4 separate regions of the Homo sapiens genome follow, and regions 2, 3 and 4 are each linked to region 1. The links come from fine-mapping of genetic effects on gene expression. A gene starts in region 1. Each other region holds a variant in brackets. All regions are shown on one strand. Distances are from middle to middle.

The links. PIP is the estimated chance that this variant, and not a neighbour inherited with it, causes the effect. A credible set is the group of variants that fine-mapping cannot tell apart.
Region 2: its variant is the best candidate, but not a certain one, in a credible set for the expression of TBC1D9B in monocytes (Quach 2016, PIP 0.51).
Region 3: its variant is the best candidate, but not a certain one, in a credible set for the expression of TBC1D9B in T cells (TOPMed, PIP 0.86).
Region 4: its variant is the best candidate, but not a certain one, in a credible set for the expression of TBC1D9B in whole blood (TOPMed, PIP 0.62).

Annotation. Positions count from the first base shown.
Region 1 is chr5:179,905,749-179,909,963 of GRCh38, forward strand. TBC1D9B (TBC1 domain family member 9B) reads right to left here and starts at 2,149. Exons shown (of 21, transcript NM_015043.4): 1 at 1,956-2,149. The coding sequence starts at 2,073. RefSeq lists an enhancer at 1,103-1,880 and silencers at 1,761-1,810, 1,861-2,000, 2,011-2,070, 2,141-2,300.
Region 2 is chr5:179,927,804-179,931,803 of GRCh38, forward strand. It overlaps a transcript of RNF130 not described here. Among named protein-coding and RNA genes, the nearest start is that of TBC1D9B, 22 kb to the left of the region's middle. The variant G/C (reference allele first, on the strand shown) is at 1,658.
Region 3 is chr5:179,861,348-179,865,562 of GRCh38, forward strand. TBC1D9B (TBC1 domain family member 9B) reads right to left here. Exons shown (of 21, transcript NM_015043.4): 20 at 3,907-4,013; 21 at 724-2,781. The coding sequence ends at 2,101. Among named protein-coding and RNA genes, the nearest start is that of MRNIP-DT, 4.5 kb to the left of the region's middle. The variant T/G (reference allele first, on the strand shown) is at 2,498.
Region 4 is chr5:179,882,134-179,886,348 of GRCh38, forward strand. The region is part of intron 7 of TBC1D9B (TBC1 domain family member 9B); the gene reads right to left. Among named protein-coding and RNA genes, the nearest start is that of TBC1D9B, 24 kb to the right of the region's middle. The variant T/TA (reference allele first, on the strand shown) is at 2,045.

The sequences.
Region 1 (4,215 bases):
ACTTGAAATTTTTTCTTCCTTTTAACGAAGTGCTGCTTTTGGCATGATCTGAAAATATTTTGTTACCATTTTTCCTGTTGATGTCAGAACAATTTTTATTGCTGTTATTCAACTTTAACACTTTTGTTTCATAGTCCATTAATACTTTTTTGAGATAGTCTCGCTCTGTCGCCCAAGGTGGAGTGCAATGGCGCCATCTCGGCTCACTGCAACCTTGACCTCCTGGGTTCAAGCGATTCTCGTGCCTCAGCCTCCCGAGTAGCTGGGATAACAGGCGCGTGCCACCATGCCTGGATAAATTTTATATTTTTAGTAGAGACGGGGTTTTGCCATGTTGGCCAAGCTAGCTATTCAGATTCTTTAATGAAAAGTCTAGGTTGGCATGTTTTTAATAGATGGCTTGGATAAAACCACATCCCTGTCTGCTCCTCTTCAGGGAGGACAGTACTCAGGAGGCCACGATGCCCATGATGGCACAGGGAAGGCCCTGTCAGAGGGCACAGCAGGACACACCAAACCTAGCAGTGGGGAGAGATTGGGAGAGGGTTCAAAGAAGGGTTCCCTTGGGGGGACCCTGGGAGCTCGGTCCCAGGGGACACGGAGAGTGAGGTGGAAAGGAGAAGAGCCCGCAGGAAGGAGGTGTACAGAGACCGGGCTGCACCTGCACCCGCCCGTTCAATGAGACGACCCACATAAGCCTGCCGAGCACAGCACAAGTGTTTCAAGTACACCAGCGAATATGACACACTGGCGCGCTGATGACACCCTGGCGCGCTGGCGGAAGAAAAGGTGCCGGTCCCTCGCTTTCTTCATCGGGCTTGCAGTAGCTTCGAGGTTAGCCACAGGGGCTGCCGACTGAACAGCTGGATCTAGGAGGCGGGTCCAGAACAGGAGCCCGAGATCCTTGAAGCCCACTGGGAGGGAACCCGAAGCTGAAGGGAACACTGAGTGTTTCTGGGAACAGAACAGTCTCTTCCACATGAAGAAACGTGGCCCAGGAGAAGCCTCCGTCTGCATCTGGCTATTAGCTGCTCACACTGAAAATCAGGATGATTCACAGAAAATGCTCTTGATAAACTGGACGACCTGGCAACACTGGGACCGCAATCCTGTAGGGCAACAGTCGGTGCCCCGAAGAGCACAGGCACTGAGCCCGAGCCAGCCGGGCTCCTGCAGTGCTGGGCGCAGGCCCTGGAGCATGAGGGGCCCCGGACACCACCTGCGGAGGGAGTGGCCTGTGGGCCTCCCCTGGATCCCACAGGCCGCACGACTCCAAGGGTGCCTGTCCAGCTTCATCCTGTGTGATGGTGGCACCCGGGCCCACAAAGGGCCACCTTGGCGAGCTTGCAGGAACACCCTGTGCCGCTACCCACAGCCTTGGGTGCGCAGCTCTGAGAGCAGCCAGGAGCAGGAAAGGTGGGGGAGGAGAAGCTGGGGGAATGGGGGTGCGGCCAGCTCCAGGGACCTCTGATCTTGCTAAAAGGGCGATACTTTGGTGAGATGGGCACGAAGAAGAGGGCAAAAGAAAACGTGCGCTGGCGTCACCTGGCCCCTTAGAGGCACCTGGGGAAACTGAGGTGGAGGATGAGGACAGGGCGGTCTCGCCAACTTTCGGCGGTGAGATCCCGGGAAGCTGCACGGCCCCCGGGGCTCGCGGGCGCCGAATCCGGGCAGAAGCCGCCGCCGGTCTCCACTTGGCCGCCCCAAGCCGACCTGAGGAGAGCCCGCCGAGGGCGCATTCGCCTCCCGCCAGCCCCTCGCCTCCCCGCCCCGGCCCCTCCGCGCCCGGCTCCCGGGTCCTGGCCTCGCGCCCCCGCCCCGCCGCGCGCTGGCGTGCGTGTCCGCCGCGACGCGCCGAGGCCGGGCCGGAACCGGACCCGCCCGCCGCCCGCCGCCAGCCCCGCCGCCAGCCCAGCCGCGGCGCCCACAGGCCCGGCCGCCCGCGCGCCTCTCACCCGTAAGGCCGCCGCCCCTGCCGTGGCCCCGGCGTCGCTGCAGCACGAAGAAGGGGTTGGCCCGCTCCGTCACCCACAGCGCATTGGCCACCAGCACCTCCTCCGGGCTCAGCCACATCGCGGAGCCGCTCGCACCGGGCCGAGGCCCGCGAGACGGAAGCGCCCGCCGCCGTCGGCGTCCCGGAGCGGAGCGTGCGGAGCGGAGCGTGCGGAGCGGGCCGGGGCGGGGCGGGGCCGGGCGGGCGGCGCCCCCTGGCGGGCGTGTGGCGCTCCCGCACGCGGCCCGAGTTCCGCGCCGCCCCCTCAGCCCCGGCCTCGGGCGCGCGCCAGCCTGGCCTCCTGGAGCGGTGCAGCCCACGGCCTCCGGCCTGGGTCCAGAACGGAACGGCCCAGTCCGCAGACAGGGGAGCCGCTGTGCAGAGCAGGGCTTCTGGCGTTTTGAAAGCTGTGCAGTGTGAGAGAAGGATGTCAAGAAGCAGAGTTTGGCGGCTTTTGGCTGGTTGCGCGTGCAACCCGGGGCGTGTTAGCACTGCAAAGGGCGCCTGGAAAGGGTTTGCAGTTCCTCCTAATTCTCAGCTTTCTTTTCTTTTTTTTTTTTCGACAGAGTCTTGCTGTGTCGCCCAGGCTGGAGTGCAGTGGCGCAATCTCAGCTCACTGCAACCTCTGCCTCCCGGGTTCAAGTGATTCTCCTGCCCCAGCCTCTTTAGCTGGGATTACAGGCTCCCGCCAACACGCCCGGCTAATTTTTTTGTATTTTTAGTAGAGACGGGGTTTCACCATGTTGGCCAGGCTGGTCTCGAACTCCTGACCTCGGGTGATCCGCCTACATTGGCCTCCCAAGTCCTGGGATTACAGGAGTGAACCATCGCGCCCGGCCAGTTCTCAGAATTCTGACACTGGGGCCGGGAGACTAGAAGAATCTTCCAGCGCAGGGCAGGTGCCAGGAGGCCCTGATACGGGCTGCATCCTTGGAAATCAGTGCTGCCCCTCCCCTGACAGACGGGTCACAGAGGCTGGCCGGCCCTGGGGATGGGGTCTGGACTGGCCCTGGGCCCAGTGGCGGCTTCTGCGCAAGTGTGAGGCTGGCTGCAGGCGAATGCGGGTCCCTGGTCTCCCAGTGTTGGCCTGCAGGGGCAGCGCCAGTCCACACACAGCCTTCTGCATGAGGGGGCTGTCAACTCCACCTGGGACAACGGGCCTGGGGCCTGTCCGGGGTCGACTGGGATGTGGGGTCACCCTGCTGGCTGGAACCCTCACCAGGGTCTGGCTAGAGGGCAAAGGGAAGGGGGCAGTTAAACCATCCTTGGAGCTGGACCTGACTTCCAGGTGGGTTTCTGTGATTGGCACTCAAGAATCTTGGTGCGATGGATGTAGGTACATGCAGTTGACACCCAGAGTGATCTGCAGTCTTCTTCAATGTTGCTGGATATAGGAATCAGCTTTCAAGATGCAGAGGCGGGCTTTCTTCAACACCTTGGAAGTCTGAACTAATATTGTCATTGTGCTCTCTAGAGGGAAAGAATTTGGAAGAACTGCACTTTTTAACACCCTGAGAGGAGGTAAAGAGTCGTCTTGTTCCTTAATCCCAGTGGTTCTCAAATTGGGTATACATTAGGATCACCTGGAAGGCTGATTCAAACAGGCTGCTGTAGTCCCAGCCACTTGGGAGGCTGAGGTGGTAGGATCACTTGAGGCCAGGAGTTCAAAATCGGCCAGGGCAATATAGCAAGACTCCATCTGAAAACAAAACAAAACAAAAAACAGCCACACAGGTTGCTGCCCCCTCCCTCCCAGGGTGTTTGCACTGCTAACTCGTTCCTAGGTGATGTTGATGCTGCTGACCTGGAGACCACTCCTCGAGAATGGTTTTTTATAAGAAGAAAAAGAACAAACATTTATCGATCACTTAGTATGTGCGTGCTAAGCTTACTTCTTTTTGATTTTCTGAGATATAAGTCACATTCCGTAACGTTCACTCTTTTAAAGTGCAAAACGTAGTGGTTTTTAGTATATTCACTAGGCTGGGCATCCATCATCACTAATTCCAGAACATTTTTATCAAGTCAAAAGAAACCCCTTACCCATTAGCTGCCATTCCCCACTTCCCCCCGGCTTTGCCCTGGCAACCATCAATCTATTTTGTCTCTATACATTTTTCCCATTCTAGCCATTTCTTCATATAAATGGAACCTTACAATATGTGGTCTTTTGTGTCTGTCTTCTTTCACTTCCCATCATGTGTTCGAGGTTCACCCACGTT
Region 2 (4,000 bases), 22 kb after region 1:
ATGGTCTCGATCTCCTGACCTCATGATCCACCCGCCTTGGCTTCCCAAAGTGCTGGGATTACAAGTGTGAGCCACCATGCCCGGCCTAGCTTTGTCTATTTTTAATTTTATATAAATGGAAACAGGGAATATATTCTTTTGTGTCTAGACTCTGTCTGACACACAAATGTCTGACATTTATGTTGCAACATCCATCCGCCTCAGGGAATATAGCAACAGTTCCTTCCTTTTCACCGCCGCATCATGTTCCACTGTCTGGCCACCACACAATTGATTGGTCTAATCTTTACGGACAGGCATTTGCATTGTTTCCTCTGGAGGCTCTCTGAATCTTGCTGTTAGGGACACTTGTTTCTGTGAGTTATCTTTTGTACACATGGACATGCCTTTCCCTCGGATGATGCCTGGGAGTGGGATTGCTGGGTCTTAGGTGTGCATATTTTCAGCGTCAGCAGACACTGGCCATGTTCCAAAGTGGCTGTGCCAACTTTGACTCCCACCAGTAAATGAGAATTCCAGTGGCTCTCTTTCTGTGCCAATAATGGATATTTTGTTTTTTTTTTTCATTTTAGCATTCCAGCAGGTGTATACACGGCATTTCACTATGTTTTAACGTCCATTCCCCAAATGACCAAAAAGGATGAACACTTTTCATACATTTGCAGGCTGTTTGTGTATCTGGTTCGCTCTGAAATGTCTCTTTGTTTCTTTTGCTCATTTTCCCATCAGGTTGTCAGTCTTCTTCTCCTTTATTGTGACTGTGAGTCCTTTGTGAGTTAAGCATTGCAGGTACCTTCTTCCAAAACTGTATTTTTTTAATTGTTGTTGTTTTTTTTTTTTTTTGAGACGGAGTCTCGCTCTATCACCCAGGCTGGAGTGCAGTGGTGCGATCTCGGCTCACTGCAAGCCCCGCCTCCTGGGTTCATGCCATTCTCCTGCCTCAGCCTCCCGAGTAGCTGGGACTACAGGCGCCCACCACCACGCCTGGCTAATTTTTTGTATTTTTAGTAGAGACGGGGTTTCAACCGTGTTAGCCAGGATGGTCTCAATCTCCTGATCTCGTGATCCCCCTGCCTCGGCCTCCCAAAGTGCTGGGATTACAGGCGTGAGCCACCGCACCTGGCCATCCAAAACTGTATTTTGATGAGCAAAATTTCTTAATTTTAGTGTGGAACAAATTATCTAACTTTTATTTTATGGTTAGGGCTTTTTCAGTCCAGTTGAAGAAGTCTTTGCCTATCTGAAGGTTTTGATGACATTTTATCTTATTTTTTAGAAGCTTCATGGTTTTACCTTTTGCATTTAGGTCTATCATCCATTTCAAGTCAATTTTTCAGTATAGTGTGAAGTAGGAATTAAGATTCATTTCTTTCTTTATAAATATTCAGTGGAGCCAGCACCATCTTGAAAAGACCATTCTTACCCCACGGCTTGTGCAGTGCCACCTCTGTCATGAGCCAAGTGTCTGTACATGCACGGCTGTTTCAGAACTCTATTTTGTTCTGCTGTCTGTCCATCCTTGCATCGATACCTTACTGTCTTAATTACTGTGGCTTTGTCAAAAGTCTTGATTTCCAGTATCTAAGTCCTTTTGCTTTATTATTCTTCAAAATGTTCTTGTTATTCTTAGCTCTTTCCATTTCCACGTAAATTCTAG[G/C]ATCAGGCTGGGCGTGGTGGCTCACACCTGTAATCTCAGCACTTTAGGAGGCCAAGGTGGGAGGACTGCTTGAGCCCAGGAGTTTGAGACCAGCCTGGGCAACATGGCAAAATCCCATCTCTACAAAAAATACAAAAATTAGCTGGGCATGGGGGTGCATGCCTGTAGTCCCAGCTATTCAGGAGGCTGAGGTGGGAGGATCACTTGAGCCTGGGAGGTCAAGGCTGCAGTGAGCCATGATTGTGCCACTGCACTCCAGCCTGGGTGACAGAGTGAGACTGTGTCTCAAAAAAAAAAAATTCTAGGATCAATTGGTCCAGTTTCAATACACACACCCACACCCACCCACTGGGGTGTGACCGAAATCACAGTAAGTCTATAAGTCACTTTGGGGAGAGCTAACACCTCCATAGTATCGTGTCACTCATTTCAGCCTGTTATATTCACTTAGGTCATCTTTAATTTCTCTCGATAACACATAATTGTTCTCTGTATAAAAGCCTTGCGTATCTTCTCTTACATATATTCCTCAGTATGATGTTTCTTTGATGCTTTTGTAAATGTTATCTTTTTTGAAAATTTCATTTTATTTATTTATCTTTTATTTATTTTTTGAGATGGAGTCTTACTCTTGTCGCCCAGGCTAGAGTGCAATGGCGTGATCTTGGCTCACTGCGACCTCTGCCCCCCGGGTTCAAGCGATTCTCCTGCCTCAGCCTCCCGAGTAGCTGGGATTACAGGCATCTGCCACCACACCCGGCTAATTTTTGTATTTTTAGTAGAGATGGGGTTTCACCACGTTGGTCAGGCTGATCTCGAACTCCTGACCTCGTGATCTGCCCGCCTTGGCCTCCCAGAGTGCTAGGATTACAGGCATGAGCCACTGCACCCGGCCAAAAATTTCATTTTAAATTGCTTATTGTTAGTCTATAGAAATATAATTGATCCTGTTAAATTTACTTACTCATTTTAAGAGCTGATTTGTAGAATATATTGAATTTTCTACATGTAATCGTTTTCTCTGTGAAGAGTGACAGTTTCATTCTTCCTTTCTAATCCTTACACCTTTTATTTCTTTTTCTTGCCATATGGTAATGGCTAACACTGCCAATATAATGTTGAAAGAGACAGTGACAGCAGATAACCTTATTTACAATCTTAGGGAAAAAGTTTTTAATATTTCACTGATAAGTATAATGTTTGCTGTAGTTTTGAAAATATCCATTATTAGATTAAGGAAGCACTCTGTTTTTCCTAGTTTGCTAAAAGTTCTTTTCTTTTAAAATCAAGAATGGAGGCTGGGCGTGGTGGCTCATGCCTGTAATCCCAGCACTTTGGGAGGCCAAGGTGGGTGGATCACTTGAGGCCAGGAGTTCAAGACCAGCCCAGTAAACATAACAAAACCCGGTCTCTACTAAAATTACAAAAAAAAGTAGCTGGGCGTGGTGATGCATGACTGTAGTTCCAGCTACTGGGGAGGCTGAGGCATGAGAACCCAGGAGGCAGAGGTTGCAGTGAGCTGAGATTGCACCACTGCTCTCCAGCCTGGGCTGCAGACCAAACCTCTGTCTCAAAAAAAAAAAAAAAAAAAAAAAAATCAAGAATAGGTGTTGAATTTTAGCAAATGCTTTTTTTGTACCTATTAAGATAAAAACATGGTGACCGCATGACTGATTGGCATTTTGATGACGTCCACGCAAAGCTGGATTCCTGTGACAGTGTTTCCCGCCTGAAGTACCGCACATCTGAACTGGGACTGTAACACTGATGGCGATACAGTGTGGGGTGCCAGAAATGTCAAAATGAATCACACAAAGTCCATTTTGTTTACCTATTGTATCAAAGGGGAGTCTAGGGACAATGGTAGTATTTGTTTTTAATCAGCTGTGAAAACATATTACAGTTCTGCACATTTTCTGTGTTCTTTTGTGTGTGTGCTTTAAGTGTAGCTTTTTTGTTTTTTGTTTTTTTTCTTTTTTGTTGGCAGTAACAGATTTTAATGAATCACTGTTTAAACTACAGTACAGGCCAGGCGCAGTGGCTCATGCCTGTAATCCCAGCACTTTGGGGGGCCGAGGTGGGCGGATCACCTGAGGTCAGGAGTTCGGGACCAGCCTGGCCAAAATAGTGAAACTATGTCTCTACTAAAATAGAAAAAATTAGCCGGGCGTGGTGGTGCCTGCCTGTAATCCCAATCCCAGCTACTCGGGAGGCTGAGGCAGGAGAATTGCTTGAACCTGGGAGGCGGAGGTTGCAGTGAGCTGAGATGGTGCCACTGCACTCCAGCCTGGGCGACAGAGCCAGACTCTGTCTTAAAACAAACAAACAACAAAACTACAGTAC
Region 3 (4,215 bases), 44 kb before region 1:
GGTTATTATATCTTAATTATATTAAGGCCAACAATGGTCTTTTTGGTATAAATCATTTGAAATTATTTTATGGTACTTTGTGTAAATACTAGAAAGGAAATTGAAGCCAGGCATGCTGGTTCATGCCTGTAGTCCCAGCTACTAGGGAGGCTGGGGCAGGAGGATTACTTCAGGCCAAGAGTTTGAGGCTGCCATGAGCTATGGTCATGCCACAGCACTCCAGTCTGTCTCTAAAACAAACAAACAAGCAGACCGGGCATGGTGGCTCACGCCTGTAATCCCAGCATGTTGGGAGGCCGAGGCGGGTGGATCACGAGGTCAGGAGTTTGAGACCAGCCTGGCCAATATGGTGAAACCCCATCTCTAGTAAAAATAGAAAAATTAGCTGGGCGTGGTGGTGCACGCCTGTAGTCCCAGCTGCTTGGGAGGCTGAGGCAGAAGAATTGCTTGAACCCAGGAGGCAGAGGTTGCAGTGAGCTGAGATCACGCCACTGCACTCCATGCTGGGCAACAGAGCAAGACTTGGTCTCAAAAAACAAAAAAACAAAAAAACAAAAAAACAAAGCTACTTAATTAAAACAAAAACAGCAGCCACAGAGATATACAATAGTACCTGAGTTTCACCTTCTGCAGCTTTAGTTACCCAGAGTCAACAGCCACCTGGAAAAGAGATGAGTACAGTACAAGAAGATATTGTGAGACAGACCACATTTACAACTTTCATTACAGTATAACCGTTACATTTTATTATTAGTTATTGTTGTCAATCTCTTAAGGTGCCTAATTCATAAACTTAATCACAGGTATGTATGCATAGGAAAAAACAGTATGTATAAGGTTTGTTATTATCTGTGGTTTTAGACATCCACTGGGGGTCTGGTTTTAGATATCCACTGTATCCCCTGTGGATAAGGGGGTAACTGCTGTATCTTTTAGTAGAAGCAAGAGCAGCCCCATGTGGGGGCTAACACTGGACACTGGTCAGTTTCAGCTCCTCATGCAAAGTGAGGGTATCCTTGTGGCTCCAGCCCTGGGGCCCCCTGCGGTCACCTTTGGCTCCACAGTCTGGTTCTTGAACCCAAGGGCAGACAGCTTGCTACAGCCCAGGCCTGAGGATGCACTTCCTTCACCAGGACCCACAACCCCTGCCCATGAAGACCTGTGGAGCTCAGGGCATCCCCTGATGCAGGTTGGTCAGGACCTGCCCAGCTTGCACCAGCAGGTTCTGCGTCTCCATCTGACCTGGCAGACCTTGCACTCTTCCACCCACTGTGGAGGACTAAGTGTCTTGAACTTCCAGAACACAGCCAGGGCCCCATACTTGGCCTGGGGAGAAGTTGGGAGGCCTAAGCAGTGGTTGGGGGCCACAGCAAGGCATTGCACACAGTGGTTTTTATTTCTTTCAGGGATTTATTAAGGCATTGAGCACAGTGTAATTTCTAGCCAAGTGAAATGAATCCAAGGAAATATATCAGGACCTGAGGGATGTTTTTTTAAAGTTACTGGAAAGGATGATGAGCTGAGAGCACGTGTACAGCCACGCCTGTGCGCAGCGCCCACTCTGTGCAATAAACATGTTCTGCCCATGTTCCTCAGTCAGGAGGTTCAGGCTCCCGGAGAGCACCTGAGGGTTCCATCACTTTGGTGCCCAACAAGCACATGCCCCCCAACCTGGTGCCAAGAGGCAGGAATGACCCCCATACCACATAGCTGCAGGAAAGCATCCACGGATGGAGGGACTCAGCTGGCCTGGCCGCAGTGTGGAGCACAGAGGTATGAGGCAAGCAAGGGCAGATCTGAGAGCCTGTAATGCTAGGCAGGTGCAGCTGGTGCGAGGCGGGCTCCCACCAGGTGTAAGGAAGGTGGGAGCCACAGCCTCTTCCTGGGCCCAGAAGCAGCCGGCGCCAGGAGATGCAGGCCCAGGGAATCTGTCTAAGGCAGCTGGGTCTGCACCAGCCTTCTTTCCACTCACAACTCACTGCTCCTGGGAGAGCAGGAGGGGCACACCTTTAAAGAGAAACTGATAAGGGAGGAAAGGCAGGAGGAGATGAGGCCAGCCCCACTGATGACACCTTGGGCCAGGCCTCACAGCTGCAGGCATCAGCCGGAAACTCCAGGCTGCTCATGGTCACTGGCGGTGCTGAACTGTCTCTCCACTTTCTTTTGGTCCTTGATCTTGAGTCCAATGTCCACTCTCTTCTCAAAGAAGTTCACCAGCACGGACTCCGTCAGGATGGAGGCCAGGATCTGCTCAAAGGAGATGCACCAGTCGGTGTCGACGGTGCCGCCGATGCGCGCTGTGGGGCTGCAGGCCTCCCCGCCCACCAGCACCGTGTCGTCTGCAAGGTCTTCACATTGCAGGGAGCCCGTGCTGACCACCGAGTAGGAGGACATGGACATGTCGTCTTTGGTTTCATCGTCAGACAGCAGCTGGGAGGGTGAGCCCTGTCCCTCGCCGCTGCCCCCCTCCACCACCACCTGGCTCTCCTGTGGGGCT[T/G]TTCCGAGGTGTGTGTCTCCGCCTGCTTTGGCTTGGGGGTCTCCTGCAGCTGGGGGCTGAAGCTCCCTGGCTGCGTCCTGATGCAGTTCGGGTGCTGGTGGCTCGTCCTCCTCAGTGGCACAGTCCCTGGGCTTCCTGCCTGTGCGGGCTGAGAACTTCTTCCCCACCTCTCCGATGCGGAGCAGGAGGCTGGCCACGGTGGCGATGGCGTGGTACAGGTCCTGCTCCATGGGGTCTTCACTGAACATGTTGTAAAGCGTCTTGCACAGCTCAATGAACTGCTCCTTTTAGGGAGAAAAACAGAAGAACAGGGAGATGGTAAAAGACCAGTCAGACGGGGTCCATATTAGCCAAACTGATGACAAGCACCAGCCTAAGGATGTTGGCTGCCGTCTTGCTAATCATCTCCATGAGCCTCATCAGTCCCATCTCACAGATCAGGACACAGGCTCAGAGAGGCCACACAGCTCTTCAAAAGGCTTTCCCCTCCAGCTGCCTTTCTCTTGGCACTCAGAGCATGCTGGTCTGACCTGGGGCCTCCCTGTTTCTAGGTCCGTTCTGTTGGCACAGGGAGATGGATTTCTACCACGACTCTAAATCCAGTCAGTACAAGGACTTCGTTGTGTTTTAGAATCACCTTTGGTTTTAATCAGAAGCAGCCTCAACTCAGCCCTTGAATGAAGCTCTTTAGAAGGTGATGGTGAGGAAAATACAGCCTGGGTCAGCTGGGGAGGGGGATCCTGGGGAGGGGGGTGCTGGGGAGGGTGGGTGCTAGGTCCTGAAGCCACACGTCTAGGCCTCCTGGCCCAAGAATGGGAAGAATCCTCATCGCACGTGGTGCCCACCCTCCAGGCCTGCTGGGGGAGTGGTCAGATTGCAGGGTCCCCTACTGGGCACAGCTAGACCGTGGGTCTGGCCCGAGGGCCATGGTCAGGCTGGTGCTCCAGACTTGCCTTTGGCTCAACGCTTGCAGTTTGGAGCTGGGGTCTCCCATTTTCTGGCTTTGAGACCCTTGGCAAGACACCATGCTTCTGATCTGCGAGACCAGTGAATGAAGAGCGGGTGTGGAGGATGCATGTGAGCCTGCGTGTGCAGAGCCCTGGGCAGGGCTGGGAGGGTGCAGGGTGTGGAACGCATATCTTGTCAAAGGTAGCCTACAAGCCTCTGGCTCCTGGTTCACAGACACTCACTCAATCTGGAAACATGCCCCTATACAAGGCCCTGGAGCAACTGGCCTCTTGTCTTTCTGGAATCATCGCTGACTGGCAACCAGGACTAACGGGCTCTAGAGGCAGGGAGGAGCCTTCCCACCCACCAGGAGATGCTGCAGTGCAGGTGCGGTGATGTTAGGGCCCAGTCTTGGTCAGAACTCTCCAGAAATGTCTACTGTGGGCTCCAGTGGAGCCTACCTGGTTCATCTTGGGAAGATCCTTAATCGTCTCCTTCTGAGCCTCTTTCTCCTTGGCCCACATTCGAAGGTAGTGCCGATAGTCCGGAGAGCTGGTCCCCTTCTCCTCTGCAGGTTAGGAGGAAAGAGATTAATCTTTGTCATGTGAGACGGCTGCGGGCTGACAGCAGGGAGAGGAAGAGTTGGGTGTTTTCTGGCATGGAGTTACCAGGGCCCTATCATAAAACACCCTGGCGTTTGGGAAGGTGGTCATGGGAAAAAAACCCAGAACAGCCACAGGTTTTCCCTAAATTGCTGCAGTGGTTGGACC
Region 4 (4,215 bases), 24 kb before region 1:
GAGGTTTCACCATATTGGCCAGGCTGGTCTCAAACTCCCAACTTCAGGTGACCCGCCTGCCTCGGCCTCCCAAAGTGTTGGGATTACAGGCATGAGCCATCAAGCCCAGCCTCATATACCTCCCTAACCTCAGGTTTTGATTGTACTATGTCTCCATCATCAGAGATTATAACATTTATATACTGTCACCTCTATTCCTACTATCTAACCTTAATTCCACAGCTAAATATAATCAATGCTACCACCAGTCGTTAGGCCCAAGCTGCTTCCATCACTCCTTGGTTATCTGGAGTCTGTTCTCCAGCAGACTCCACAGAAGCTGAGAGAGCCCCTGAACTCCTCTGCATGTTCTTTACAGCCTATGGTCTTTATACCTGAACGTCAGTTTGGCTGGGTATAAAATCCCTGGGTCACAGCTTCTTTTATTGTATATCTTAAAAATGTTACTCTGTATAATCTCAGCACTCTGGGAGGCTGAGGCAGGTGGATCACCCTAGGTCAGGAGTTCGAGATCAGTCTGGCCAACATGGTGAAATCTCAACCCCATCTCTACAAAAAATACAAAAATTAGCCAGGCATGGTGGCACATACACGTAGTCCCAGCTACTCACGGGCCTGAGGCACAAGACTGCTTGAACCTGGGAGGCAGAGGTTGCAGTGAGCCGAGATTGTGCCACTGCACTCCAGGAGACACCCTCCCCAACCCCCAACAAAAAGTTACTCTAAAATGTTGTTACTGTATCACAAAGTCTGATACCTCTCTTGAGGAGGAATCTCTCAGGATCGTGGCCCATTGCAACCTCCTTCTCCCACCTCCTGGGTTCAAGTGATTCTTGTGCCTCAGCCTCCCAAGTAGCTGTGATTCCAGGCATGTGCCACTATACCTAGCTTAGTTTTGTATTTTTAGTAGAGACAGAGTTTCACCATGTTGGCCAGGCTGGTTTTGAACTTCTGGCCTCAAGTGATCTGCCTGCTTCAGCCTCCCAAAGTGCTGGGATTACAGGTGTGAGCCACTGTGCCCAGCCTGGAATAATTTTTTAATCTTTAAAATTGAACAGTTTTATGAGATTTTATGTCAATATCGACTATTTTGTGTTGATTTTTCTAGACATTCAATGTGTCCTTCCACTATACAAGTTCAAGCTTATTTTATCAGTTTTCCTGAATCACAGTTTCTATTATCTGTTATTCCACTGCTTTTTTCTGGGAAGGGTGTGGGATGGCACTACGATTATACGTAAGTTTGATCTTCTTTGCCTAACTTCTTTATCCCTTCTCTGGACAACTTCTTCTCTATTTGTTTGAGTCTCCTCTGACTCCATTTTTCTCCTATCTCTTCCTTATTTACCTTAATGTATTTTCATTCTTGTGTTCCTGATTTTCATTTCAGAAATATCTGGTTTTTTTTTTCTTATTTCCTCCTGAGTCCTGTCAACTCTCTTCATATTTTTCTGTTGACTAGTCACTTTTAACCTGAGCTTTTTAAACATTTTTAATTTATACCATTCTTTAGTAGTTTCTGTCGTTTTTCTAATTCCTTTGAGATCACTCAGAAACATCAGGACACAGTTTTCATCTGCCTGGAGGAATGTTTTTCTGGTGTGCTTTCATTATCTGTGGGAGGTTATCTGGTTCACTTTCTCCCCGCAATATCTTTGTACAGGGTGTGATCAGCATCTTTTCCTGTTCTTTCAGCAGGATGTTCTACGTACGGGCAGTTGTGGGTCAGAGTAGCTTTCTGAACTCCACAGCTGGAGAGGCCTTTCCCCTGCTGTGGTCGGTCTGTGTAGTCCTTGCTCCTGTACTTTCTGGGATTGGCCACCTCTTTCTTGTATCTAAAGCTTTTCTCCTTTACCCCAAGTGTTCCTGCTCTGTTCAATCCCAGTCCTTTTTTTCTTGGGGTGAGCTCTTGTCTTTCAGAAGAGAAGTTTTTGTTAAGGGCATGGGTTTCCCTCACATTCTTGATCTTTCCTCAGCCGTATAATACGTCAGGCAGCGATAAGGCTGTGGGTAGAAATAAAGCAGGATTTTGTGCTTCCATTAA[T/TA]AAAAAAAAGCCTCCTCTATAAACTGGAGCCTGAGAAATCGGCTCCCAATTTCACTGGCTGTCTCTCAGATTCACTTGTTGAGGTTTCCATTTGCTGAGTAGTCTCTTGTGAGGGGTATTCTGGTGACTTCTGGATTCCTTGGCTCTTAGGACTATCAGAGCCCCTCTTCCTTCCCGCCATTGCCTCAGCACAGCTACTGGCTCTGTGTCTGCACAGAGTCATGCCACAGTTGGTGGTCTGGCCTCCAACTGTGGTGCACAGTTGGTGGATAGAGCATAGCACGGAGGTTCCTTGAAATATTAAAAATAGAACTGCTATACAATCCAGCAATTCCACTCCAGGGTATGTCCCCAAAAGAACTGAAAGTAAAGATTCAAACAGACATCTGTACACCCATGTTCACAGCAGTGTTACTCATAATAGCCATGAGGTGGAAGCAGTCCAAGTTTCAACAGTGAACAAAACGTGGCTTATCCATACAATGGCATATGATTCAGCCTTAAAAAAGAAATCTTGAGCACGCTACAACAGGGATGAACCTGGAGGACATCACGCTGAATGAAATAAGCCAGGCACAAAAGGGAAAATACTATATGCTTCCACTTATGTGCATTACCTAGAATAGTTCAATTCAAGTCAAAAAGGTAGAATGGTGCTTGCCAGGGGCTGGGGGAGTGGGGGCTGAGGAGTTACTGTTTAATGGGTTCAGAGTTTCAGTTTTGCAAAACTGAAAAAGTTCTGTGGATGGATGGTGGTGATGGCATAGCAATGTCAATGTACTTAATGGTAAATGTTGTTATGTGTATTTTATCACAATAGCGTCTCCTGAATCTGACCCCTTCTTACACCTACACTGTTCCTACCCTTGATGCTCGACTCCATCATCTTGTGCCCCTGCTTCTGTGATGGGCTCCAGCCGGCCTCCTTGCTTCTATTCTTGCCACTCTCTAGTCCAGCACTGCCCAAGAGAGATGATGAGAGCCACAAATGTAATTGTAAATTTTCTAGTAGCCACATTGTAAAGTCCTAAAGTAAATTATTGAGATTAATTTTAACAATATATTTGACTTAATCCAATATATCCAAAATACTCGCATTTCAACAGGAATCAATTAAAAAATGATGGAGTGGCCAGGCACGGTGGCTCACCCCTGTAATCCCAGCACTTTGGGAGGCTGAGGCAGGTGGATCGCCTGAGGTCAGGAGTTCAAGACCAGACTGGCCAACATGGCAAAAACCCGTCTCTACTAAAAATACAAAATAAGCCGGGCGTGGTGGTGGACGCCTGTAATCCCAGCTACTCGGGAGGCTGAGGCAGGAGAATCACTTGAACCTGGGAGGCAGAGGATGCAGTGAGCCAAGACTGCCCCACTGCACTCCAGCCTAGGTGACAGAGCAAGACTCTGTCCCCCCCCCAAAAAAAAAAAGATGGAGGTATTTTACGTTTTTCTTTTCATACGAAGTCTCCAAAACCCGTGTACAGTGATCTGAACACTCACAGCACATTTCCATTGGCACCCGCTGGATTTCCAGTGCTCCATGGCCACACGTGGCTGCTGTACTAGACGGGGCACCTCTAATCCACTGTCAACATGGACGGCCACAGTAACCCCATTAACACGTAAACAGGTCGTGCCCTCCTCTGGTCATGACTCTTCACTGGCTTCCCCTCTCACCTGAAGTCAAAGCTGCAGCACTCACAGGGCCTACGGGCTTTCGGTGACTTGGCCTTCTGCCACCTCTCTGGTCTCACCTCCTACACCTGGTCAGTCTCCTAAGCCCTGGTCCCAGAAGCCCGTGCCACATCCAATCCTGTCTCCCAGCTTGCTGTGCTCTCTGCCTCCAACACCCTGCCCCAGACAGGCTATGGCTAGTTCCCCTGCTTCTTTCGAGTTTCTCCTCCAGTGCTGCCTGATCAGAGAGGTTGCCCATGAGCAACAGAGAGAAAATGGAGCCCCCTTCTTTCCCCTGGCACTCCTGATCCCCTCATCCTGCTTTATTTCTACCCACAGCCCTTATCACTGCCTGACATATTGTATGTTTATTTGCTTACTGCCTCCCTCACTGGAATACAGCTCTAAGTGAACAGGCACTCTGTCCGATGTGTTCACTGTTCTACTCCTGGGGCCTAGAATAGCAGCTGGCACCTAACAGGAATGCAATAAAATGT